4 linked regions of the Homo sapiens genome follow. The protein of the gene in region 2 purifies or fractionates together with the protein of the main gene of each other region. This does not show direct contact. Each region holds a gene or a part of one and is shown on either strand. Other genes may lie near its edges.

The links.
Region 1: the proteins of EDA (region 2) and AP3M2 purify together in Homo sapiens (affinity purification with mass spectrometry; 3 studies listed by BioGRID and IntAct, with this or other methods). This does not show direct contact.
Region 3: the proteins of EDA (region 2) and ALG5 purify together in Homo sapiens (affinity purification with mass spectrometry; 4 studies listed by BioGRID and IntAct, with this or other methods). This does not show direct contact.
Region 4: the proteins of EDA (region 2) and AP3B1 purify together in Homo sapiens (affinity purification with mass spectrometry; 4 studies listed by BioGRID and IntAct, with this or other methods). This does not show direct contact.

Annotation. Positions count from the first base shown.
Region 1 is NC_000008.11:42,156,052-42,163,079, reverse strand, and holds part of AP3M2 (AP-3 complex subunit mu-2), read right to left. Parts: intron 7,027-7,028; exon of another isoform or gene 6,208-7,026; intron 5,140-6,207; coding exon 4,968-5,139; intron 800-4,967; coding exon 662-799; intron 1-661. UniProt on the Homo sapiens protein: Part of the AP-3 complex, an adaptor-related complex which is not clathrin-associated. The complex is associated with the Golgi region as well as more peripheral structures.
Region 2 is NC_000023.11:70,032,113-70,039,140, forward strand, and holds part of EDA (ectodysplasin-A), read left to right. Parts: intron 1-1,285; coding exon 1,286-1,416; intron 1,417-1,968; coding exon of another isoform or gene 1,969-2,088; exon of another isoform or gene 2,089-2,934; intron 2,935-3,245; coding exon 3,246-3,497; 3' UTR 3,498-7,028. UniProt on the Homo sapiens protein: Cytokine which is involved in epithelial-mesenchymal signaling during morphogenesis of ectodermal organs. Functions as a ligand activating the DEATH-domain containing receptors EDAR and EDA2R. May also play a role in cell adhesion.
Region 3 is NC_000013.11:36,982,328-36,989,355, forward strand, and holds part of ALG5 (dolichyl-phosphate beta-glucosyltransferase), read right to left. Parts: intron 3,414-7,028; coding exon 3,300-3,413; intron 1-3,299. UniProt on the Homo sapiens protein: Dolichyl-phosphate beta-glucosyltransferase that operates in the biosynthetic pathway of dolichol-linked oligosaccharides, the glycan precursors employed in protein asparagine (N)-glycosylation.
Region 4 is NC_000005.10:78,221,680-78,228,707, forward strand, and holds part of AP3B1 (AP-3 complex subunit beta-1), read right to left. Parts: intron 6,561-7,028; coding exon 6,465-6,560; intron 5,854-6,464; coding exon 5,693-5,853; intron 3,930-5,692; coding exon 3,863-3,929; intron 1-3,862. UniProt on the Homo sapiens protein: Subunit of non-clathrin- and clathrin-associated adaptor protein complex 3 (AP-3) that plays a role in protein sorting in the late-Golgi/trans-Golgi network (TGN) and/or endosomes.

The sequences.
Region 1 (7,028 bases), on a different chromosome or scaffold from region 2:
AAAGGCAGCTCCCTGAATTTTGTGATTACAACTTTAGTTCTGCCATCAGAACTGGGAGCCAAATACTTTCGAGAAGGTAATTTAATCAATAAGAAATTAATTTGTTACTTTTTTTTTTTTTTTTTTTTTTTTTTTTGAGACAGGGTCTTGCTGTTGCCCAGGCTGGAGTGCAGTGTCATGATCAGGGCTTACTGCAACCTCAACTTCCCAAGCTCAAGCAATCCTCCTACCTCAGCCCCTCACAAAGTTAGGAATACAGGCATGCACAACTATGCTCAGGTAATTTTTTTCACTTTTTGTGGAGATGGGGTCTCACTATGTTGCTCAGGCTGGTCTTAAACTCCTGGGCTCAAGCAATCCTCCCGCCTCAGCTTTCCAAAGTGCTGGGATTACAGGCGTGAGTCACTACATCTGGCCTGTTACTTCTCTTTTTTATTCAAGAGGATAAGACCAATAAAGCAAGTAAACATATGAAATAAACCCTGGTCTGCATCATAATATTAACGTCCATTCCCAGTACCCAGCACAGTGCCTGGCACAAAGTAGGCACTAAATTGAAGTGGATGACCTTGAATGGGGGTTAATTCTGAAACTACAAGCATTATATGAAAGAGGTCCCTTTCTATTTTCATATTTCTGAGAACATATTAAAAGCACCTACCTGATTTATCAATAATTGCATCAATCTCTTCAATCACATCAAAATAGGCCTCATTGTTGGTATATTTCACCCCAGTCCGTCGCCAAGGCACCACTGACAGCTGCCCAGTGGGAAGCTGGTCACCCACATTCGTGCTTCCTGAGGCAATTAATATTACTGTATTTTAACACCATTTTGACTCTAGAAACCACAGAACACCTCCCTAGAAGTTTCTATGCTCCCACTATTCATGCACTCAATTGAAGAATTTTTCAAACAGAAGATGAGGTTTTTCCCAACTTCTATATGGGGTAACCTAGTCTATTTTTAAAACCCCTTGTTGCCATCTGGTCTGCCTTTTCAAACAGAATAAAGGTTTAAGAAAAAGTTACCTGAGAAACAGATATCATATTTTGGTTTTGAAAGTAACCTGAACTTAGTATCTCAGATGCAGCTTAAATAATGTATTGGCTTTCAGTAGAGTTCGTAATCTACATATTGATATAAAAATTTCATGGGTAAAAACAGTATTTGAGCCTGAGATAGGTTCTTAGGTACATTTATGGTAGGTACTAAAATGTACATATCAATATGATCTGTCTCATTCCCAAGTTCCAACACTGAAACTTAGGAAAAGAACACAAAGTTGATCTCTCCCTGTCTTTAAGAATTGTAGATCAATTCCTTCACTTGTTTTTTCCTTTACAGGCATAAACTTTTTTTAATTTAAAAGGTTTTATACTGACATAATAAAATACATTAATTTAAATTCTATTTCCTTCTTCCATTACCTGGATCCTTTTATTTTCTGTCTTTAAACAAAATTTTTTTTAGATAGAGTCTCGCTCTATCGCCCAGGCTGGAGTACAGTGGTGCAGTCTTGGCTTACTGCAACCTCTGCCTTCCGGGTTCAAACAATTCTCCTGCCTCAGCCTCCCGAGTAGCTGGGACTACAGGCGCGTGCCACCACATCCGGCTAATTTTTGTATTTTTAGTAGAGACGGGGTTTCACTATGTTGGCCAGGCTGGTCTTGAACTCCTGACCTAATGATCCACCCAACTCGGCCTCCCAAAGTGCTGGGATTACAGATGTGAGCCACCATGCCCACCTAAAAAATTTTTTTAAGAGATAGGGTTTTCCTATGTTGCCCATGCTGGAGTTCAGTGGCTATTCACAGGCACAATCATAACTCACTGCAGCCTCGACCTCCTGGGCTCAAGTGATCCTCCCACCTTAGCCTTCAGAGTAGCTGGGACCACAGGCATGCACCACCATGCTTGGCTAATTTTTGTATTTTTTGTAAAGACAGGGTTTCATCAAGTTGCCCAGGCTGATTTCGAACTCCTGTGCATGAGTGATCCTCCCGCCTCAGCCTCCTAAAGTATTGGATACAGGCATGAGCCAATATGTCAGGCCCATTTCAACTTTTCAAAAGTGGTTCTTAGATACCCTTTTCTAGATTAAAGTGAGATACAGGCTTAACTCACTTCATAATATTCGTAAATGATTCAGGCACTAACAAAGCTTTTAAGGCTTAAAATGAACTCAGAATATTGAAGAAACCACCAAATTTGTTTCCTTAAAAAGAGGAACTATGTATTAAAATGTATCATCAAGATATAATAATCAAAGCAGTCTAGGGAAAAGGCAGGAAAGCCTAAAAACAGACCAAGAATCCATAATGACAGGACAAGATAGAAATGTCATTCTAAAACAGGGGAAAAGGATAAATTACACAATGGTGCTAGGAAAACTCTTGAAGAAATAAACATTATTGCACACCAAGATAATTTTCAAATGGATTAAATAATTAAATCCAAAAATAAAATCACAAACTAGACTTTTAAAAAAGATCTTCCCTTCTCTGAGATCAAAAAGACATTCTCCTGTTTTTGTCTAATAATTATAAAGTCTGTGTTTAACTCCTTAACCTAGCTAGACTTTATTTTGTGTATAGTGTGAAGTGGAGGGACTTAATTTTTTCCATATTGAAGCTGACTGCCCTAATACAATATAGTTAACAACCAGCCCCTGGTCCACTGATTTGATAAATGACCACATCTATCTACACCAAATTCCTATAAAAGCAAGGGTCTGTTTCTGGACTATTTTATCCCAATGACCTATCTGTCTGTTACAGACAAATACCAAATTTTAAAAACTACCCAAACTTCATACAGATTGAGTAATCTTTACCTGAAATGTTCAGGACCAGAAATGTTTCAAATTTTGTATTTTTTTAAATTTTGGAATATCTGGATTATACCAGTTGCGCATCCCAAATTCAAAAATCTGAAATCCTCCAATGAGCATTTCCTTTGAGTGTCATGTCAGTATCCAAAAAGTTTTGGATTGTAGAGCATTCTGGATTTTGGATTTGGGATGTTAAACCTGTAATATATCTGATATCTGGTAGGACACATTTTATCTTTCCTCTTTTTAAAAATATTATTTTCAAAACTCTCTTGGGTCTTGTAGGATGTCTACTGTATGAATATTTGTCTTGTGTACTATACAAACTTAACGTGTCGTGATATTTGACAGGGCAAATCCTCCCAACAACCCCTTTGTAATTCTTTTCCAAAACTGTCCTGGCTATTCTTGCAATATTTATACTTTTAAAATGTATTTTTCAATCAGTTTATAAAATTCCATGAAAATGCTTGCTTATGCATTAAACAAGACCCAAAATGTAAAACCTTAATGAAAAGAATGATTAATTTGATTAAATCAAAACATTTAAAATGTGGCTAAACACCACCAGAACAAAGCTAAATCACAAGTGATAGACTGTAAGAAAATATCTGTAATGCAGTAATCAAAAGACATAAAGATCTCCCATAAAAGAGATTTTAAATCCACATGAAAAAAGAAATACATTTCAACAACAAAAAAATGAACAAAGGACATGAAAAGGTAATTCACAATAGAGGAAAAACAGTCAATAAATACTTGAAAAGATTTTAGTCTCCTTAATAACAAAAAATGACTGTAAATACAAGATATCAATAAACTATCAAATTGCCAATGTTTCTAAAAAATTATTAATGACAATAACAGGGTTCACTACAGTGCTTTGAAATTGTTACTGAAAGTATAAATTGGCCTAACTTTTCTGGAGAGCAACACATTACAGTACTTAAAATGTATACACCCCTTGACACAGCATTGCTACCTCTACTACTTTAAAGAAATCATCCCAGATGTGCACCAAGGTTCAAGTGTAAGAATGGTAATCCTTGTTATTTAAAAGAACAAAAATCAGTAACATCATAAATAGGGATTCAGTACGTAACTTTGGGTCCACTCCACATGGAAGAAAACTATAAATTATTAAAAATGAAGGCCAGGCATAGTGGCTCCCACCTGTAATCCCAGAACTTTGGGAGGCCAAGGTGGGTGGATCACTTGAGGTCAGGCATTAGAGACCAGCATAGTCAACATGATGAAACCCCATCTCTCCTAAAAAATACAAAAATTAGCTGGGCATGGTGGCGTGTGCCTGTAATCCCAGCTACTCGGGAGGCTGAGGTAGGAGAATCGCTTGAGCCTGGGAGGCGGAGGTTGCAGTGAGTTGAGATCGCACCACTGCACTCCATCCTGGGCAACAGAGCAAGACGCCATCTCAAAAAAAAAAAAAAGAACCATGTAGAAGACATCATCATGGGATAATGTTCATAAAATATCACATGTTAAAAGTGTGGTGGGATTAAAAGCAATTTTTGCATTCTTTGTGCTTTTCTGTATTTCTGAAGTTTCTACAATAATCATGTGTTTCTTCTGTAATCAGAAAAAAATATTTTTAAAGAACACTTCATTTTGTCATTAAAATCAGGGTATTTTCCACAAAGCAAAAATATTATTTCAGGTTGTACTCAGTCTACAAGAGGGGCCAGGCGCGGTGGCTCACACCTGTAATCCCAGCACTTTGGGAGGCCGAGGCAGGTGGATCCCCTGAGGCCAGGAGTTCAAGACCAGCCTGGCCAACATAGTGAAACACCATCTCTACTAAAAATACAAAAATTAGCTGGGTGTGATGGTGCATGCCTGTAATCCCAGCTACTCGGGAGGCTGAGGCAGGAGAATCACTTCAACCCAGGAGGCGGAGGTTGCAGTGAGCCAAGATCACGCCACTGCACTCCAGCCTGGGTGACAGAGGGAGACTCTGTCTCAAAAAAAAAAAAAAAACAACTACAAAGAGCAAAATTAAAGCACTGGGACACCTGAGATCCCCAAAGACAAACACTCAAAACAATGTGCGACACTCGACTAAGCCACTCAGGCTGTAGGATGGCCACTATCTATCAGTTTCCCCCTCTGCCGTACCTGTGATGGTGTTGACAACCGTTCGAAGGATGGTAGGAGGCTTTATGAGTTCTTTAAGAATGTTCGACTCGGTAGCCAATGGAAAACCATTGTCAAGCATCTCTTCCAATACCTCATAAACCACAACTACATTGTCTTTGATCACTGGCTCTGAACAGACTCCAAAATAATCCTGATGGAGACAGAATATACACATTGATCACTCAGATACTGTAAAATAAATAAATAAATAAAAGAATGTGCCTACAGAGAATAAGGATCTGGCCTGTCCATGTGTTTCTGGGCTACTCTTCTACAACGAGGGAATGCAGCATAACCATAGTTCTCTTAGGCAGTCTGTTTGGTAGAAAGCACTAGACTGGCTTATGGTACTACTGTCATTACTAGCTTCTTCTACAAACAAGAGGAACTTAAATCTTTTGGGTTAATTTCCTCAACTTGATAAAATACACAGAATACAAAATTGAATCTTGATTATGTGCTTATCAACAAGAATTTGAAAGAATTATACAAAATAATACTTGATATAACAAAGAACAGTACATGAAAATCTTTACCCCTACTGCTGTGCTATTTCTTAACATTCATGCAGTGAATAAGAGTTGAGGGGAAAAAAATGAAATGAAGGGGACAAGCTAGCACACCTGAAAATTCCTTTGGACTATCTTTAAGACGCTAGCATTCCAAGAACTCTTTGTCCTTTTATTTAAAAGGCTAACGTTAGGTGCTAAATTATCTGCATTGTGGGAAAGCACTGGATTTCAAACCAGAAGACCTGGATTATAATTTTGTCATTTGTAGATTAAGTCATGTTAATTAATTTTGATCTTGATTCTTTAATGGTATAATCAGGATAACACCACTGGAGGTACAGGGCTGTAAGAATTAGGCATGACTAATTAAACACTAACGCTCATGAATGTACTTTGTAAACTATAAAGCACTACAAAATGGAATGCGTGATCATTATTTAGCAAGAAATGTTTGTGGCTATTCAATGTTCCCTTCCAGCAATGTCAGTATGTCTTTTCCAGGACCTCTGAGAGGGTCATGCAACCCTCTTGAACTCATAGAATGAAGGAAAATTTACTCCTTTTGAGAAAGTCCATTCTATTCATGAATGGCTCTGATCATTCCAAAGTTCTTTCTTTTGCTAAACTGAAATTTGCCTCCTAGCTCTGTTTTGCAGAGCAAGTGTACATAACAGCCCTGCAATTATCTGAAAACTACGAGTTTTCACCTCAGTTTTTTTCTTCTCAGGGCCACACTTTCAAGATACTTCCGCTGTTCATGATAAGGTATGGTTTCCAGGTTGTTTCACCATCTTTCCATTTCTTTGACATCCAAAACTGAACAGACTCTACTAGAGTCTAAATTACATTAGATAACGTCAATTATCCACAAGATTCCAATACCCGGGTCACCTAAGAGTCAGGAATGTATTCCTAAAACAAAAAGATTTCCTCTTTAAGAGGAAAATTCTCATTTTGAATGATAATTTAAAAGAAGAAAAAGTCACACATTTCCTTCCCAAAAGTGATTTATTTTTAAAAAATAAAACACTTCACTAGGTTTTATAAACCAGGCATCATGTGAACTAAGCAGCTGGAAAGGAGCCTCGCAATACAGCCAAGTGCTGCAGCCGGCCTGTGAGCCTGCAATTCTATTGCGGGGCCGCTCCTGTCACATTCTGGTCCTGGAAAAATCATGCTGCCGGAGAGGATGCACATCCACATCGGAGACCTGAGAATCAGGATGTCCACTGACTTTTAACAACTGCTTCAAGAATAACAAGCTCTGAAGTCTCAGACTTCCAAATTAGCAAATTTACTCTGCTTTCCCAAATTCCCCCATGGTTTCAACTAGATCAAACAACTCTTCTCACTTCCTGTCTTGTAATAAGTTACATTAGTATGGCCATATAGCGGCTGTCAGTTTCACCAGTGCGACTGTTAATCTCAGAATGAGTAAAGTATCACACGTGGAAATCATAACAAGGCCCAGTTAAAAGTTGTTTAGGATCACAACTCCTGGGTTCTTCTAGTTCTTCCACATACTGGG
Region 2 (7,028 bases):
GCTGGGCATAGTGGCACACACCTGTAATCCCAGCTGCTCGGGAGGCTGAGGCAGGAGAATCACTTGAACCCGGGAGGTGGAGGTTGCAGTGAGCCAAGATCACACCACTGCACTCCAGCCTTGGTGACAGAGTGAGTGACAGTCCATCTCAGAAAAAAAAAAAAAAGAAGAAGAAGTGATGGGGTCAGGGGTTGGAGGACGTCATGCAGAGTGGTCCATTGATGGGACAGAGCCAGGGCAGCTCCTAGCCCATCTACTTACCACCTCAAGGAAAGATGGTCACCTTTTCCAGAAAGGCTGTTTCCTCACCCCTCAGACAGGCAGGCCTACTGAAACTGGCCAAAGATGGACTTATAAAATATAATTTCTTGGGTGCAGGATGGATGGCTTAGAGGGGAAAAGGCTCCCTGGGCTTGGATGTCCTCCTCTCATGGTGGGAAGGAACATTCCTCTTTCTGCAGGATGGAAAGAGAAGTTTTTCCTCCATCCTCACACACTGGCTTCCGCTGTCCAAAGGAGTGTGACTGCCCCCTCCACCCCTGCCTGGGGTGGGGCTGAGACAGATGCTTTGCCAAGGGTGGCTCGGCTCCTATCCTCCCAGCTGGCTCTATTGCAGCCTGCCAGTCTATCCTTCACTCTCATAAGGATCCCTCTCACCTATGGGGCCCTGGTACTAGTGGTCAGTAGCCCCAGTTACCATGGAGTCTGAATCATCTCTAATCCCTAAGGTTCTCCAGATAGACAGTGGGCTGAGTGGTTTCCTCCCAGGGAGGCTTTCCAGAAAGCTGTGGGTGTGGAAGAACCGTAAAAAAGAATCTCTTAAGGAGAAAGAGAAAACCCATGAACCTATGAGATGAGAGGGATTCAGGAGCTCTGGCTGGGAAAGTAAAATTGAATAATAAGACCTAGCCTGCCACTCAGTGTCTGAATTTTGCCTGTGCAGGCCCCATAACAACAAAGAAAATAGGGCAGCATGCCCACTCTCATCCTCCACCGGCAAATTCCAGCTAGAAGGTATTGGTTAAAGACCCTTCCAGATGCAAGGGTCAAGAAAGGAAGGATAAAGACAGACAGGCAGAGCCCAGGAGCCCTGAAGCAGGCCTGGCAGCTGCTTTACAAACAGAACAGCTTCTCTGCTTTCAAATGCTCTTCTTAAAGTTTGGCCTTCTAGGCTACCCTGGTTGCACTGGGATAGGGGTGGGGGTTGTGAACTCCTTGGTATTTATTTTCTGTTGCCTCGATTATTCTGACATGTACTGAGTGACTGCCCTTCTCTCATACTGAGATCTTTCAGGTGGAGTGCTCAATGACTGGTCTCGCATCACTATGAACCCCAAGGTGTTTAAGCTACATCCCCGCAGCGGGGAGCTGGAGGTACTGGTGGACGGCACCTACTTCATCTATAGTCAGGTAGAAGTGAGTACGGTCTTAGGCCTAACTCTTCTTATATCCAGAATGCAGATCCGGTGCAGGCCACATAGGGGCACTGTGGAGCCAGCCAAGACCATCCAATGGCTAACTTCCTGCTTTGGGTGAGGGGGTGGGGGGACCGCACTGGGAGGGAGTTGAAAGGAGGAAAGAGAGAGGGGGCCAGCTTCTTTTGTTTTGTTTTGTTTTGTTTTTCCTTAGCCAAATATTATTGAAAAACTGTGAAAAAGACCCCTCCCACACCCTGCCATCTGATTCCCTCCTGCAGGGCCTCAGGCCCCTGTTTACCCTCTGAGCTGTTTGGCTGCACTGCCAAACTTGAACTTGGTCTCAGTACATTCTTTGAAAGTCAGTTCCAGGGTTACTGAGAACCCTTTCCCTCAACACTGCTGGCTCGGACGTTGTAATGAATAGTGCTCCTGCAGACTTTCTTTCCACCTCAAAAAGATTTCTGACTGTCTTTCCTTCCTCTTTCTCCCATTTGTTTCCCTATCTTTCTATTCCTCTATTCTTGCCTCCTTCCTGCTGTCATTCTCCCAGCCCTTTCTCCCTCTGCTTTTGTCCTCTTCCTGCCCTGGGCCCGCTCCCCAAGTCCACCAGTGTCCATCTACTTCCGTTCCCCCATTGTTTGCCTCCATGGGAGTGGCTCCTTGGAGATAAAGGAAGATGAGCCATGAGGTTGGGATTTTTGTGGGATGGGCAGCAAGCAGGCAGGTGGACAGAAGGACTATGGAGCCAACAGATGGGTGTCACATGAGAGCGGCCAGAGAAGGTGGGCTAACAAGCATCTGCTAGGCACACTGAGCACCCCGCTGTAGCTTGGGTCCTGACCCGTATATGGCACCCAAATATGCTGTTCCCACCTGAAGAGCTGATAGAGGGAGTGACCTTTCATAAAATGATTTACGGTGATATCTGAGAGTCCCAACACCCATGGGGCACATGGGCATAACCCTGATGTCCTGTGAGCCAAGTTCCACGTGGTGGGGGTGGGCGGCAGATCAAAACTTGGTGTGAGGTATGATGGATAAGGGTAGTGAAGGATGGAAAAATTAATTTTCTGAGCCTAGGAGAGAATTGAGAGTGGCCCATGCAGGCTGGGAAAATCCCCATGACATTAGGCCACTGAGCATAAGTTAGTGCTTCCTTCTGGCCACAAAGTTAGGGGCCTGGGCTTTTCCAAATTCTTTGTCTTGTTTGTGGTAGCTAGCTCTCGATCTCTCTGGACCTGTTTCCTCAATCATCAGATGGGAGGCCCAAGGGGCACTGTGAATCAGTGAGGGGAGTCCAGGCCCAGGGGAGGGGTGGTGCAAGCTGAATAAGCTTCTGTTAAGGAGCTCAAGAAATCACAAGTTGTTACATGCCCTCTCTGGGGAATCAGTGACTTCTAAGTTTCTCCACAAATAGTCCGTGGGGCTCAAGAATGGAAGTCAGTTTGTGTCCACGGCACTGTGTACACACCTGCTACGTGCAGAGCACTCTGCTTCATGTCAGGGCTGGGGCAGGGGTGGGCGGGGGAACAGGGGCACGGTGAAGCTGCAAATAGGGCATGGTTCTTAGCCTTACAGAGTTTGCGACAAGTGTGCTGTTGTAAGAAAAGTTTGCTCAGCCAGCTGAGCCCCATGGACTAGGGGAAGAACAATGCCTGTCACCTGTCCTTTCCTGTTGGCCAGCTAGCACGCCTTCACATGGCACTGCCCCATCCATGGGGTATACTAACAGCTCATCTGAGAAGATTCTGTCAATTCACCACAGGGAGGGCCCCCCACCCTCTCTTTCCTCTCTTCCCCAATCCCTTCTTGTTGCCTCTCACTCAGGTATACTACATCAACTTCACTGACTTTGCCAGCTATGAGGTGGTGGTGGATGAGAAGCCCTTCCTGCAGTGCACACGCAGCATCGAGACGGGCAAGACCAACTACAACACTTGCTATACCGCAGGCGTCTGCCTCCTCAAGGCCCGGCAGAAGATCGCCGTCAAGATGGTGCACGCTGACATCTCCATCAACATGAGCAAGCACACCACGTTCTTTGGGGCCATCAGGCTGGGTGAAGCCCCTGCATCCTAGATTCCCCCCATTTTGCCTCTGTCCGTGCCCCTTCCCTGGGTTTGGGAGCCAGGACTCCCAGAACCTCTAAGTGCTGCTGTGGAGTGAGGTGTATTGGTGTTGCAGCCGCAGAGAAATGCCCCAGTGTTATTTATTCCCCAGTGACTCCAGGGTGACAAGGCCTGCTTGACTTTCCAGAATGACCTTGAGTTAACAGGACAGTTGATGGAGCCCCAGGGTTTACATGAAGCAGAACCTTCTTTGGTTCCATGTTGACTGACTTATGGCATGACTCTTCAACCCCGAGGTCCCTGTTGTCAGATCTATTGTTTGTTGCACTAAAATGAGGATCCAGGGCAGCAGGCCAGAGAAAGCAAAGGTGCACTCCAGACTCTGGGGGTGGACATCTGACCCCAAGGGGGCTGCTGCTCCTCTCTTGGGTAGGGTAGTGGCTGGGGTGGAGTGGGAAGGGAGCATTGCAGCCTAAGAAGAAGGCCAGAGAGGGAAAAGGCAGGTGCTTTTGGCAGAGACCATAAGAGAAACCTGCCAAGGAGCATCCTTGGCAGTGGGAATGTTCTTTCTGCTCTATACTGTGGCCTGCAGGAGGGTTGGAGTGCTCTTCCCACTCCAGCTGACAGCCACACCGTGGCAGCTTGCTGGGCTTTGGGAAGTTTGCTGTGCTTTGGAACAATCACAGGGAATGGCCACAAACCTGCCCGCCTAAGACCCTGAATCCGTACTTGGGTCACATGACTCTCATTTTATTTACAGCTGTGCTCCACACTCAGAAAATTCCCTGGGGTCACCTTCTAGTTGCCCCCATTCCCAGCCTGACTAGAACTCCTGTCTTCTTTCTCCATGGAGCCTACCTCTGTCTGAGACAGGTGCCTAACCTGGGACCTGTGGTCATGTGAGTCTGGGATATTCTTTAGCTTACCTGGGCACAAACAGAATTTTCCATTTATTAAGCAGTACAAATGTTTTTCATCCATTCCTAATCAAATTCTGTCTGGGGACGAAGGGTTGGACGGGATGACCTCCAGAAGTCCCTTCAATTTCTAGTACCTGTGACTCTTAGCCCTCACCACAGCCTTCTAAATTCCCAAATCCTAGACTGCTCCTGGGCATTAGCAAGGCAGAGCCTTTTTACCTGGCCTAGAAAGGGCAAGGGGTGAGGATAGGACAGAGGGATTTTGTTCAAGTTTGCTGCAACCCAAGTGGACGTTAGGCCAGGCCTTATCTGAAAGGCCAGCAGCTGATGCTGTACTAACCCAGTCTTTCTTCACTCTGGCTTCAAAAAGCCACAGCAGAGCATTGTCACCGCAGGTGCTCATGCTGCTCCCCTAAAGCCAGGCTCAGGAGAAGCCAGTGTCTAGGCACTGAGCAGGGATCTGCCCCCTAGTTCAGGTCCAAATTCACCTTCCCCTAAACCCCAAGCTTCCCAACAGATCATATGGTAGGACCCTCGAGAGCCTTACTTCAAAGTGCCTGGGCTCAGCCTGGTTTCTGGGTGCTAGATCCAGCCCAAACCTGGGAAGGCCAGCCTTGTACAGTCTGCTCCTCTTGTTCCTGAAATGTGTTTCCTTTTCAGGAGATGGGGAATAATTTCCTTCAGGCAGCTGAAATTCACCAAGAACAGCGGGTACTTATTTCTCAGCTGTGCCTTCCCTTTCTAAGCAACCACACTGCTTGGCCCTTCAAGGGTCAGGGTGAGACGTGATGGGCTAGGCCTCCGTTGTCTGGTTGCTAATGACAGCCTTGCAACCCAAGGTGAGGTGAACTCCAGGCATGTGTCTGGCCCTAACTCCTATAAAGTGCCTCGGACAGTCCGCAGTTGTAGCAGAAACCAACAAGAACCACTCCTTCATGTTTGGAAAATAATTTCTCTTGTATTATCTCCTTTGAAGAAGGCAAGGCTGATAATATGACAAACATCATTGTTTAGATGAGGCTCAGAGAGGTAGCACTCTCAGAGTGTTTTGACCAGTTTAAGCCGCAGACCTGGAGCTTCAGCCAGGTCTGACTCCAAAGCTGTTCCATTACACCACAGCATTGTGTGGAATTTGAGGTCTAGAGAGAACCAATAAAAGTGGTAATTGGGAACTGAAATCCTTGAGAGTTCCGGGGAGAAACCCAGAGATGCCTGATTTCATTCCTCGATGGTAATACCCGTCCTCTCGGCTGCCAGGGGCTCTGTGGCAAAAAGAGTCAGACATTTCTTTGGAAAACAGCGAACAGCCTTAGAGCTCTTGTGTTCAGAAGAATCTTCCTGGCACAATGTTGGAGCAGCAGGCCTCTGGGACCCACAGAACTTGTGGCCTTTATGTTCTTTCACCCATCCTAGGAACCAGCCAACCATCATGTGTAGAGCCCCTACTGTGGGCAAAGTCCTCCTTTCATTACCCTACAGACAGCTTACAGGAGCCAGCCTGCTTCCCACAACTACTAGTGTGACTCCTTATCTCTTTCCACCATACCTTAGAGACTTTGATACTACCAGGGTCTCTCAGGGATGGAGGGAAGACCTGAAAGAGAGGACTGGTTCTGAGGCCAGAAAGGTGTGAGGAGAGAGGAGGAAAAGTCTTCCTAATTGTGCCCCTAAAGAGCATCCTGATACCATTCTATTCTCCAGACATGGAGGGGATGATAAAGGAAATAGGATCTCCACTGGACCCTTGATTCATTCTGAACCCTCCAAAGGAACTCTAGAGGGCGAGGGATGATGAGGGAAGCAATAGGTAGCTGGGGAGCCCTATTGCTGCTAAGTCATTGGCAAAGTGACAAAGCAATTTACTGATGAGAGAATGTGGAAATAGATGTGCAGTTTGGAATTATGTTGGTGTGAATTTGCCAGAGGACCAATGCTTGCATGGAGAATGGGACGAGGACATTTGTGGGCAAGCAGATGACAGAGGTTTGAAGGAGAATGGCATGGCAGGAGTCTCTGCCAGTTACTTGGGCTTCAACAGCCAAGCTGGCACAAAAGACAGCTGGCGGAGGCTGCTCGGCTACTGGTTACCTGGAGAAGTAGTATTTGCCTATTTCCCCCTTCATCCATCCTGAGCCAAATTTCTTTTGCTGAACAGGAAAGAGCTAGGAACCCTGGAGGTAAACAAAGACTTTGATCCATGTATGAGTGTATGTGTTTATGTAACTTCCTGTGGATGCAAATAGATTCAGAGAAATTTAGAGCTAAAAAGGCCCTTAGAGGGAATCTAGCCCAACCTACATTCCACCCTGTTACTTATGTAGAAACTGAGGCCCAGAGAGGGAAGATGACCTGCCCCAAGTGGTGAGCAAGCACCAACCTCCAGACTCAGCAGAGTGAGGGGGTAAAGCAGTTCCTGTCCCACATGGCCATCTTCTTTCTTCCACCCACAAACTCCAGGCTGGAAGTACTTGGCCCCCTTCAGGAGCCTGGCCAGGCAGGGAGAGAGTAGCTGCAGCCTTCATCAGAACTCTTCCTCCTCCCAAGGCATTCTCCCAGCTCTAGCCTCTGGACTGGAAAGCACAAGACTGGCCCAGTGCCAGCAAGTCCTTAGGCTACTGTAA
Region 3 (7,028 bases), on a different chromosome or scaffold from region 2:
CTTAAGCATCACTAGAGCTATGCAGTAGAGGCTGAAAGATCACTAGGTAGTTGTAAAAACTTTCCAATATTGGATAAATGATTAAATTAGATTTAAGAGTCAGCAAACTATAGCCTGTAGCCCAAATCTGATCTGCTGCTTATTTGTGTAAATAAAGGATGTATTTTATCTATGTCTACTTTCATGCTACAATAGAGCGTTGAGCAGCTGCCACAGAGGCTGACTGGCTTTAAAGCTGAAATATTTACTATATGGTCCTTTACAGAAAAAGTTCTCTAACACCTGAATTACATAAGTAAGAAGATTTCTTCTAATTTCTCTATGCATGTCAACTTCAGAATGTAAGTTTTCTGAGAGCAATGACTGGCTGTTTATAAGCTTTGTCAGAACCATATTTTTCACTGGGTGGATCCAAAAACTATGAATTTTGTAACTTTAACCACCTATCATTTATTTGCCTCCTTTCCACCTCCTGCAAAGAGTATTACATGATGCATATTAATAAAACTTACTAAATTTAATTCAAATTAATTCAATTGAGCTGGGACACTTAAATAATTAGGGATACTTTAAGGTGCTGTAAAACCAAGGCTACGAATTAATAGCTTAATGATAATCACATGCTTTAATTCTTTAAAACTTAACATTTCTAGTAACAGTGTAGTAAATGGGATTATGATAAGGAAAAAATATGGCATCAGAACTCCTTTTCTTTACAGAGTAGTATAAAGGAACTAGATTTATAAGAATAAAGTTCAGATTTTTGTTTTATTGTTTGGTTCACTCCCTAACATCAGCAAAATCATTTAAATTATCTTTGCCCTACTGCTGAATGACAAAATCAGCTGCTAAAAATCTGATGCCTTATGCCCTCCCTCCCACTGAGTGACTCCCTCTAGAAAGATAATGCAAGGGAAATATTTATCAAGTTTCTCTTGGGGTCCTCTGGAGAAAATCAGGAAATCACACCAAGTAACTTTATGAATGAGATTTTCCTTTTAGCCTATCATGATTTACTAAGATGTTGGACATGAAATACTTTTTTAGTAAGAGTGAACTACAACATATCCAACAATAAATTCATATCATGTTATAAGCCAGAGAACTTTTTGTGATGATGGAAATGCTATACAACAAGCGGGGCATGGTGGCTCACTTCTGTAGTCCCAGCTATTCAGGAAGCTGAGGCAGGAGGATGGAGTTTGAGTCCAGCCTGGGCAACACAGTAAGACCTTATCTCCTTTAAAAAAAAAAAAGGTAGCTTTTAGCAACAAGTAATTTAAATGTGGCCAATGAAACTGAGGAACTAAATTTTCATTTTATTTAAATTTAAATAGACACATGCAGCTAGTGCTACTTGTCTGAAGAGCAATGGTATGAATATCTTTACAGCTAATTCTCTTAAGAATTATATTAGTTGATTCACTTAGAATCTTAAAAAAACAAAAAACACCTAGAAAAAAACAAAAAAAACAGCTAGAAATACAAGGGATGGGGATGGATGATGGTGGGGGAGAAATATACTTCACAAAGTGTGGAATTAAATAAATATTTATTTCTAGAAGGATATGCAGTGAGTTTTTCTGTAATTATTATTAAATTTGGGGGGGCCTTATATGTTTACCTTTTTGTGTTGTTTGGTTTGGTTTTTGCTATAACAGGATCTTAATAAATATGTAATAATATTCAGTTCTAAACTAGGTCTATTTCATTCATAGATAGTTTTACATATTCATCTTATTTTGGTCTCAATTTGTTTCCTTAGTTCTGTAATTTTTTTTTTTTTTTTGAGACAGGCTCTTGCTTTGTCACTGAGGCTGGAGTGCGGTGGGGCAATCACAGCTCACTATAACCTCAAACTGCTGGGCTCAAATGATCCTCCTGCCTCAGCCTCCTAAGTAGCTGGGACTAGACGCATACACCACCACACCCTGTTAATTTTTCTCTTATTTTTACAGAGATGGGGTCTTGTTATGTTGCCCAGGCTGGGCTCAAACTCCTGGCCTCAAGTGATCTTCCTGCCCTGGCCTCCCACAGTGCTGGAATTACAGGCATGTAAACCTGGCCTGTAATTTTTCTTTTAATACCATTTTGTTGTTTTGTCATCTTACCTTTGAAGACCTGTGTTGCTAAATTCTTATTTTCATTGTTTTATTTCTTTAGCCAGAATACTTGCATGTAATTTTGTCCTTTTCCTTGGATTACACTGTCTTAAATCTTTTGTATGCAACTTTAATTCTTTTTTGTGTAATTATATGTTGGTGTGATTGCCATTTCTTTCTTTTATTTTGTCATGATTAACATGGGCAGCTCTCCTACAGTAAATGAACATTCTCCTTGATGTACCTGTATCTCTTCCCCCTCTAAACTAGAATTTCAAGGCCTGAGTATTATATCTGGACTTGAGGGTAGACGGTGGGAAGGCAGGGAGGAGGGACCCTCCCCTGGAGCTCTACGTGGCTTTGTTGGTTACTTGGGTTCCCTGGTCTTGTGAGATTTTGTCGAGTGTCTTGAACAAGGTACACTCCATCCAGGAAAGGATCTAGTCACATGGATCTGTGTCCCCAATTCAGCTTACAGTCCTGAAAAATGGCAGACCTCAGCAAGTTTTCTTGCTTCTGCTGAAATTCTGACGTATTGTGTGGTGGTAGGTATATTGTTTGACATATTGTGTGATGGTAGGTATATTGTTTGATGTTGTCCAAGGGTGCTTTTTCATTCTCTTATTCATTTTTTCCAGATTGGGAAGTATTTGGCAAACGCTCAGGATCCTGAGCGTTTGCCAAATTCATCTTATTTCTCTAAATGGCTTTTAAAAGGTAGGAATGGTACTAGGATTTTATTTCTTTCCTCAACCTCCACTTTTTGAAGTTATGGTGTGAAGTTTCAAATAATCCTTTTTGAGTGATTGCTGCTTGTGATTTTGTTTGTTTCATCAAAAACTGGATTCTGTGATCCAGCTTCATTTCACATCTTTACCTGGAATTCAGGCTATACTTTTAAATAAAAGTCTTAATTGAATATGCACAATAAATATTAAAACTTGGGTAGAAGCAATCAGAAACCAAGAGAGAGAAATGGTCACAATATTAAATAAGTAATTGTCAAGTGAATCTCATAAAATCAGACAATATTTGTAACAAAATGATCAGTTCCTCTATGGGGCTGTACCATTTGTATAAGGATTTCATACCAAAAACACTCAGTTTTTAAACTGATAGGTAAACTCTCCTTTAACTTTACTTTAGCTCTCCTGCATTCTTGACTGAATGTTATTTAAACTACATTCTTATACTCACAGGCCAAGGCTGTAGATCATTTAGCCCCTTTTCTAATTTCTCAACATCTGGAAACTTTGTGGCTCCATCAGCATCTGCCATAAGGATCTTTTCTCCTCGAGAACTGAATATACCCTGTATTTTAAAATTTCAAGTCAAAGAAAATTGGTTAAAACTCAGGTTAAATTCAATGACACTTCAGTCTGTTCTACTTAAAATACCTAAGAGTGAAAGATGAGGTATGAGATGGCTGAAGGAGGCCAGAGTTCACTGAAAACAAATTACCTGTATATTAAGATCTTCTCAAATGAACCTATTGCCTATCTTCATTATTTTAAAAACTTTGTGAAGTCATACTACAAATATCTTGGAAAATACCAAGATAATAAAATAGGTTTGGACAAATTAAAGATATTCTGCATCACAAAGAATAAAAAACGGACAGTACGTATCATACATATTATATGTTTATCGTGTCATGATGCTTAAAATGAATTACGGGCTACTTAGAACCACATATAAAGAACATGTTTATAGACAGATTAAACATTCTAATATATAGATATGCTGTGAAATGCACAGGTCTTTAGTATCATTTATTATAGGATCTAAAGTTTACTAAATTAATTAAAGAAATAAAAAGTGTCAATAAACTTTAAGAATTATGCATAAATCCAAATGTTATGTTATGCCATTTGCGGTATTTGAAACAGCAAAATTATGCCATTCAATTCTGAATTGGCTGGTCTTTTGTGCAAATTATGGCTCCATGAGTGCATATTTCATACAGAAATAAACTGCACATCAACTTTTAATTTCTCTGATGTATTTGAGTGAATTCCTTATTTCTTACGTGCAAATATATTTATGGTTTGATATAGTAAAATTGCTTTGATAACACAACATAGTGTGACTATAGGTAAGACATATACAAATGTAGAGAGAAATCAGATCATTTATTCTATGGTATAATAAGCTAACTAGTTAGTATCTGTGATGTCTTTTTAATCACACCCATTAGAACAAATGCAAAAGGCTAGGTGAGATGACTCACACCTACTACAATCCTAGCACTTTGGGAAGCTGAGGTGGAAGGATTGCTTGAGCTCAGGAGTTTGAGACCAGTCTGGGCAATACAGTGAGACTCCATCTCTACAAAAAAATTTAAAAAATTAGCCTGATATAGTGGCACATGCCTGTAGTCCCAGCTACTTGGGAGGCTGAGGTGGTAAAAAAACTGGAGCTATTAGTCTGAAATGGGGCAAAAAACCAGTAAGTGACTAATTTCAATGATGCGTGATCAAACTTGTTTAAGCCTACTTTCCTGTTCTACCGTCTATGGCCTTCACTTTGCTGCAGCTCCTTGAAAAGGCAGTCTACCATAGCAACTCCCATTTGTGTTTCCTCAGTCATATTTTATACCCATTATTTCTCATGTGCCTCACTGCCTTAAGATTTCCTGATTCTCCTTTTCTCTGTAACCTCCTCTTTGCCAGTTTAATGGCTTCAGGTTCAACTATCATCTGACATATGTGGATGACTCACTCACATCCTCTCTCCTAGGCTATTCTGGATACCACTGCATGTTGTTTCAAACTTAACATGGCTCAAACTCAACATAACTGCCTCTTATACCAGCTCCTCCTCCAGTGTTTCATTCCTTCTATTAATGGCATCGTCATCCTCCCTGTTACCCAAGGCCAGTGGTACTCATTTGACATAGTTTGGATCTGTGTCCCCTCCAAATTTCATATTGCAATGTGATCCCCAATGTTGGAGGTGGGGCCCAGTGGGAGGTGTTTGGGTCATGGGGGTGGATCCCTCATGAACAGCTTGGTGCTGTCCTTGCAATAGTGAGCAAGTTTTCATGAGATCTGGTTGTCTAAAAGTGTGTGGCACCACCGTGCCCGCTAACTTGCTCCTGTTCTCGTCATACGATGCTCCTGCTTCCACTTCGCTTTCTATCATGAGTGGAAGCTTCCTGAGGCCTTCACTAGAGGCAAATGCTGGCACCATGCTCCGTGTACAGCATGCAGAACCGTCAATCAATCACATCTCTTTTCTTTATATGTTATCCAGTCTCAGGTATTTCTTTATAGCAATGTAAGAATGGCTTAGCATGTCATTCTTCTCTCTGATCCCAGACCCAATGCTATGTCATTTTAATAGCTCTCACATTTATCCCCTCATTTTCTTCTCTTCTGTCACTATCATAATCCAAATAAATATTCATCATACCTTGCCCAATATTGCTACACTTGATGCTGGCTGATTAAAGTGTCACTCTGTCAATGGTAAAAAATGTAAAAGCCCCTCGTCTACAGTTTGTGACCTTAACTCACCCACCGCTCCAGCCTTATCTCCAGTCAAGACGTGGGTACCATGAGTGGGTCCTTTATTGTGGCATGTTCTTTCACATTGCTGTGCCTTTGTTCATGTTCCCCGTCTAGGCTCCCTGCCCTCCCAACTTGGAGGTGGTTAAGTCCTAATCCTCCTTAAAGACCCCGCCGAGAATTTGCCTCCTCTGGGACATCTGTGCTGCTGCCCTCAAAAGATGGTGGCACCAACTTTTTGCATGTACTTCTATTATAGCATTTACAACACTGTATGGCAATGGTCTGTCTCCCTACTAAACTGTGATGTCCTTAAGGACAGAATAGGTGTCTTTCATCTCAGTGTCTCTAATGAAAATACAACATTGGCTGAATAAAGAAACAAATGGATAGATTTAAAGCCCATCATGACACTGCATCAATCCTACTTTCTTTCTGTTTCATATATCCTGTGACCCAGCCAAAGTGAATCACTGTTTCTAGTACATATCCAAAGAGTTCCTACTTCTGTCTTTTCTGGCTTTACTAAATGGCGTGCTGTTTTCTCAAGTCTTTTCTCTATAGAGTTATCAGAGAGGTTAAAAGCATGGCTTTCAGAGTGAAACTAACTGCATCCAAATCTTGACTCTACCTCTTATCATCTGATAACACTGGGTAATTTACTTTACCTTCTTTACTCACTTTCCTCAACTATATAATAATCAAACTAATATTACCCAACTCATAAGACACTGTGAAGAGGGCAACATGTGATGATTTGTATCCTGACCATTTCCCTTCTCCTTCCTGTTGAATGTGGACGTGATGGCTAGTGCTCCAGGAGTCACCCTGTGTGCATGAGGAAGAAGGAGTGAAACGGCAGAAGCCTGGACTTCTGATGACTGTGGAGTTGAACAAGCCCTGGACTGCCCACCTTTAGACTTCTTTTTATGAGGGAAAAATAAATAAATGGACCTCAAAGTCAATTATTTAGGTTTTCTTTCACATATCTTGATTTTTAAACTTCCAGCTTGATTCATAGCTGATATGCCTCAGCTGACAGTAACCTCTTTTTTGAAATTTCTTAGCACTTTATCTGCATGTCTCTCATAATTATAATCTTCTTTTTTACTTATGCAAATGCTTACCTTTCCTATTAGACTGCACATTTCATCAGGACAGACCCAAGTCAAATTCATCTTAGTTCATGCTACCATGCATAACAGCATACCTTCATCAAGGTAAAACTTAATACAAAAAACATTTTTTAAACTGCAAAAAACCACATAAGCTATCTGCTAACTCTATCAAAGATACAGAGGTAGATGGTAACATTTTAAACTTTAAGATAAACATAAATACATAAATCTATTTTTAAATCACCCACTATATTATAGATATGACACATCTTAAAATTTGACTAAAAACATGAAGTTAT
Region 4 (7,028 bases), on a different chromosome or scaffold from region 2:
AATGTAAAACAGGCAAAGAAGATCCAATGTGCATAAAATAGGAATCCCTGAAAAAGAAAAAAAATAACAGAATTAATATTTAAAATTATAATCTTAAAAAAAAACACTTTGCCAGAGATAATAAAAATTCTGAATCTACATTTTGAAAGGACTCACTGAGTACCAAGGCAAAACAATTGACCCATATCAAGTAATCCTGAAGTACCTTGCAAAAGTACTATATTTCAAAGATAAAATCTTCAGGGCCAGCATCTTTCTTAATGCAAACACAATGTAAGCATTTCCTTTAGACTGAAACAAGGCAAGAATGCCCACCATCTCCACTACTATTGAACACAACTGTAGTGATGGCACTAAACAATATAATTAGGCAAGAGAAATTAGAGTTCTAGGAACTGAAAAAGAGGAAGTAAAACATCTCTATTTGCAGATATGATTCATTCTCTAAAAAAAAAAAGAGAGAGAGATTTAGGCTGCTTGCTTCTGCCTCAGAGTTGGTGCTGTCATGGCCAGTCAGTCTCAGGGGATCCAGTAGCTGCTGCAGGTTGCTGAAAAGGGTGTCTGAGACCTGCAGTGAAAGAACCGGAGGGAGAAGCAGGCCAAAGCAGCAGTTCAAGGTGAAATTGAACAATATTGCCTGCAGAGGGAGAAAGAGTTCAAGGCCAAGGAGGCTGCTGCCCTGCGATCCCAAGGCAGCTGCAGCATTAAAGTAGAGGAGACCCAGGAGAAGAGAACCATCTGGAAGCAGTTTAGGCAGAAGAGGGGTGAAGTCTTGGCCTTTTTCTGCAATATCTGGTAGTCCATTCCTGCTAGTGGTTAGAACAATGAACACTAGTATAATTGTTTGGGCCAGTTTTAGTTACTTAATCAAAGAGGACAGAATTCAAGAACTTGTTACATGTTACTACTTGGTGTACTGATAATCATTTAAAAGTAAAGACTCTTTGTCATGCAAAAAAAAACCCAAGGAGGATGAATGAGAAAATTAACTCAAACAATAGAAGAATTCAGTAAAAAAGCAGAATATAAAATTTATCACTCAAAAAAAATCAATAGCTTTCTTACATACCAACACAACGAGTTCAAAGATATAAATAGTTGAAGCAATTTTGATTTACCATACATTAAAAAAAAGATTAAAGACAAAAACAACTCTAAACTAATATTTAACTCTAATTAAATATTTAACTCTAATTATTAGGCCCCATGCTACTGTATACCCCACAGAGGTACAGTGCTAGCAATTCTGAAGCAATAGTTTCTCTGCATTCTGAGACTCAGCAAAAATGTAAACAGATTGTGGAAATAGGAGCCCTGTTTCTTGTTTTTTTGTTTGTTTGTTTGTTTCTTTTTTTTTTTTTGTAGAGACAAGGTTTCACCATGTTGCCCAGGATGGTCTCGAACTCCTGGACTCAAGCAATCCATCCACCTTGGCCTCCCAAAGTGCTAGGATTACAGGCATGAACAATGGTGCGTGGCCAGAGCCACATTTCTTAATGTTGAATAGGCAGTTTCAAATATAAAAAGGAAGGAGGCTGGAAGGAACTCTGTGCTATACCACCAGAATTACAGGTGTCAGTAAAAACTTTGTTTTTTACTATAGACAGAAAAAGAAATATGTATTCTTAATTAAAAAAAATAAACATATAGTATATAACACTTTAGGAAAAATGAGTGCCTCACAAAGGGTAGGCCACCAAAGCCCCCAAAGAATCTACCTATGAACACTGAGCATGAAACCACTGCAGGGGGGTGAGGGAGACATTAAAAACGATACTACACACTTAATTACTATCACCAAGAATGTAACAAATTAATTCAACAGTCATTCAACAAATATTAAATACCTGTGATGAACAAGTATTCAATATTTTTTACTTTCTGGTGTATTTTGGAAACAGACATTCCAATTTTACACAGATATTGTATCTTTACATCTTTTTGAGTACTTATTTCTTATTTGGAATTTTTAATCACATCCCATGTGGTGTTAGGCACTGTGCTGAGGGTTTTATATACAATAGTTCTTTCTCTCGACACAAACAGCAAATTTATAAATTAGATATTATAAACCCTACAAATCTGGAGCCTAAAACTCATAAAGAATTGGTACATATACTATGTGGCAGACGCTCAGACATTAAGCCAGTTCTATCTGATTCAAACGCTATTGTTTTTACCTATGATATGCTGTATCCTGTCTGGGAAGACATGCACATATTATACAGAGAGAGTTCATTCCCAGGCCATCCAAAGAATTTCTCTTAGTCTATAATGTAGCAGAAATGATGGTAAAACTCATTAAAATGACAGATCTGCTTCTTGTAGATCTTACTACTCTCCATGGTACTTAGCCAATCTCTTGCACTTATAATAGAAAAGCACTAAGTATTTTTTTAAATTATTAAAATCAAGTTAACCATAATATTAATAATATTGACTTCATATCTGGCAGATAGCATGCCTGTCATACAGAAGACAAAAAGGAATCAAATTTCTTTTCTCTATCTTCATTTATAATCAATCTATATTTAGTTACCTCCTACGTTATACCAACTATGCATAGAAGAAATGCAATAATGATTTCTGGTACACTACAGACTAACAGAAATTTACTAAATGGTCTAGGAATGAAACTACAAGTATAATCTCCATGTATAAGACAATATTTTCAAAAATATATAGTAAAAAAACCATGAAAAGAATTAAAATGTTCACTAGAACATATTCACTTAATCTAAGAAAAAGCAATAAAGGAGAAATAAGGAACAAAAAAGGCATGAAACATATAAAAGCAAGTAAAATGACAGCTTAAAATCCAACTATATTAATAACAACAATAAGTGTGAATGGATTAAACATTCCAATTAAAGGCACACATTGGCAAACTGGATAAAAAGACAAGAGCCAACTATATGCTGTCTATGGAGACATACAATAGATGCAAAAATATAAACAGGCTGAAAGTAAAAGGATGGAAAAAGATATATAATGGAAACAGCAACCATAAAAAAGCTAGAATAGTAGTATTTATAACAGGCAAAACAGACATTAAAACAAAAAAATGTTACTAGAGATAAAGAGGAACATTTTACAATGACAAAAGGAAGATTAAAAAAATTATAAACATACATGCACCAAACATCCAATCTCCTAAATAGATGAAGCAAACACTAACAGAATTAAAGAGACTTCAATACCCTGTTTTCAATAATGAATAGAACAAGTAGGCATAAGATCAGCAAAGTAGAAGATTTGAACAACACTAAAAAACAGATATCTATAGAACACTCCACTCAACAACAGCAGAATACACATTCTAATCAAATGTTTATTGAACATTATCCAGGATAGATCAAATGCTAAGCCATAAACCAATAGTTACAGCTACACAGGGCTACTGCCTACTGTATTAGATAGCTGCCATGCATAGATAGTACATACTCCCTGATGATAGCATCCTAAGATGAGCTGGAATCCTTTTCCTCAGTAGTTTTGAGAAATATAAAGTGGGTACAAAAGCCCCATCTAAGATACTAGTACACTAGTAACTCACATCCCCCATAGGTCACCTCTATTCCTTGATCTTACCATGTTAACCACTTAGCCACAGGTTAAAGATTTTTTTCTCAACTTGCCTTTTTTCAGATTCTGATGAAGAAACACATAACGATCTAAAACTCCAAATGCAGTCTTTCTCATTACATGAAAATTTTTGTTCTTTAAAAATAGTCCTGTGTGCCATTAATATTTATACCATTTTGAAATCAATAAATACAACTATATAAAATATATAATGGTAAATGATACTATGTAAATAAAGTACATTTTTATGTCAAAGACGTAAAAAGACATTACTTACTGTGCTTTTATCTTTCAGAAGTTTTTCAATTACTTCAATTAACATTTCCTTCTGCTCTGGATCAAGGCTAAAAAATACAAAAATAACATATTAATTTTTCCCTTTAATTCTAGCTTTACATGATGCTCACCAATTCAAGGATGTTGAGAAATTTTTAAAGAGGGAAAGGAGAGCAAGAATTATAAGTTAGAAATAAAGAAAAACAAATAAAATGGGATGGTTTTTCTCATGAATGTGTCCTCATCTTTCCCTCTAATATTGTTCATATTAACTAAACCAGATATCAATGGTTTAGTTAAGATAGTACTGAAAGAACAAGTTCACTTCTAAAAGAGTTGGAAAACTTCAAGAAAGCGACTGTAAGTAGATAAACCACAAACTCTTTTCAACTGGGAGGAAAAAAATAACTAGATAGCAGTCATTATTTTACTATGCATACATACTTCCCAAAAACAAATATGGAGAATTTCCAAATAAGAATTTTATATCATACTAGTTCACTGATAGAGACATGCATTATAAAATCTGCCAACTAAAACTAGGAAAAATAAGAGGTAGTAATAAGCTTAAAACATTTGAGATAGAATACTAACAGACTATAAGCTCAAGGCAAGGAGAGGCAAGCATTGAGGCTGGAATATACTGGTGCCCAATGATAGAAGGACTTTTAAGCCGTTAGAGTGAGCATGGATCTTATCCCATAAGTTTCTAAGGAGAAAAGGTGAGTGAGAAGCATGATAAAACCTTGTCTGGCAGTTAACATAGGAATATGAGGTTTCACTTTCTACAAACATACACATTTATTACTAAACATTATAATTATCTGGACAAACTTTTTAATTCTTTCAAATTTCAGCTTAAGTCTTCCTTCTCAAAGCAGTATTTCACTACCAATCCCATCTCATTACATCTTTACTTTCCGGTAACAAAATATGATCATCTCTGGTCCCTGTCCTATCAAAGACATTGCTAGTGTACCTTTGTATATACATATATATCAAGTGCTAATATCTTATTCATTATAGATTGCCTTTAATTATTTGGTATGTCTTTGATCTTCTTCCTCAAATACATGATATGCTATTCATAATTAAGTGCCACATCCTCTACTGTTTTCATACATCTAAATACACATAGCACAATACTGTGAATACAACACCAGAAACAGAAGAGAGTCTCAAAAAGCTTGAGGAATAAATGATAGCTGAAAATAATACCAAATTGTTGTAGACAATTCTATTTGGACAGTAAATTTTCCACAGAGATCAGGGCATTGTATAATATTGCATAACATTTCTAAAATATCACACAGATATGGTATAGCACACTATATTTCAAATCACTACACTTTTTAAAATTACTTAATAAAATAGCTCTGGAAAAGAATTAGACAACGAAGGGAGCAGCAGGAACAAAGATGGAAGAAAGGAAAACACATATAAGTGAGTTGAGAGGATCAGACACTTAAGATTCTACCCTAAACAGGAAAAAAAAATCTCAATTTTCTAATAATACAAGCATATGTGTACATGAGATAGACTATATAAATGAGAATTCAAATTCTGATTATTCTTAAGTTATAAAATCTATAAATTATCACAGGCTCTAACAGCCTCACAAATAAAAACCTGCATAGGGTCTCTATAGCCAAAACGAAATTAAAGATGTGTAAGGAACATTTGCAGCAGGGGGAAATACCATCATACAGTCACTGGATTTACTTAGTGTAAGAGCAGCCTACCTAAAAGAGCGAATAAAACAAGCCTCTGTGGTCTATAACATTCCATGTAACATCAGAGATCTTTGGTATATTGTTAACAATGCACCTACCTGTATAATTTTTGTATTGCATGGGCTGCATTCTTCCTAACATATGGTGATAAGTCAGCAGAAGCTTCCTTAATAGCAAGCATCATGATAGGTACAATAATTGGCACTCTAATACTTGACAGAACTCTCAAAGCGCTTGCACGAATTAGTTGGTTTGGGTCCTAAAAATAGTGCAAAAATATTCACCAAAATTTCAACTTTACAATATTTTAAACATATCTTTCAGACACAGTTAATAGGTGCTTAAAGGGTGTAATATGACAATAGCAAAAGAAAGCTACTTAATTTAAAATGAACAATTAGTATATAGGAATGGGAAAAAAAGACAGACATAAATGTTTACTTCTTTAATAATGTTTTAAAGAAAAGTAATAGTTATAATTCTAGTTGGTCATTTATTACTAAATATGCTGGGTTTTTATACTTTCATAATAATAAAATGCTGCAGGTCATCAATTTCATGTTTAAAAATGTCTTATAACCCCTTTTGCGTACTTTCAACAACTAGTATAATGATAAACAGCTCTTTGAAGCATGAAAATAATTATATTGAATATAAACAAACATACAGAAGCTGTAACATATACAGCAAGGTTTCAGTTGGTTGTATAAATTATTTTCTAAGTGTACTGAGTAGGCACTATAGGAGGCTTTTAACTCTTTCAAGACACTACTGTGCTATTTAGTGGATTATCGCTCCACTTCTTTAACTGACACACTTTCAACTCTGCAGAAACCTTGTAGCTATTTGCCTACTCACTCCATTATTTACCTTCAGAGCTCGCTGAAAAGTGCTTATGGACAGGAGTGCAAGATCCTGCTGTTCTTCAGCATATCGAACCAGGTAAACATATACCAACTTCTTGATCTGTTAAAAAAAAATCATTTATTCATAACCAGAGTGAAAATTTAAAACTCAGTATTTGCTATACCAAAATCCATGCTCAATTCTTCTCAAGTAAATAACTGAATCTGGTCACATGTTAGATTGTAAAATAAAAATAATATTTTGTGGGATAATAAGTACAACAGGAAAAGCTTTTAAAGTAAGCATTTTAATAGTCCAGTTCACAATAGCAATAGCCTATCAAAGTGTCCCTTCCTCTTGAAGGGAATAAAAAATCCCTGAGCAGATCTCATATAAGAATATTAACTAAATTGTAAAAATATTTTCAAAATGAGGGATAAAAATAAAAGAAAGAAGCCAGGCATGGCGTACATGCTTGTAGTCCCAGCTACACAGGAGGCTGAGGCAGGAGGATCACTTGAGCCCAGGAGTTAGAGGCTATCCTGGGCAACACAGAGAGACCCTACCTCTTTAAAAAATAATAAGAGA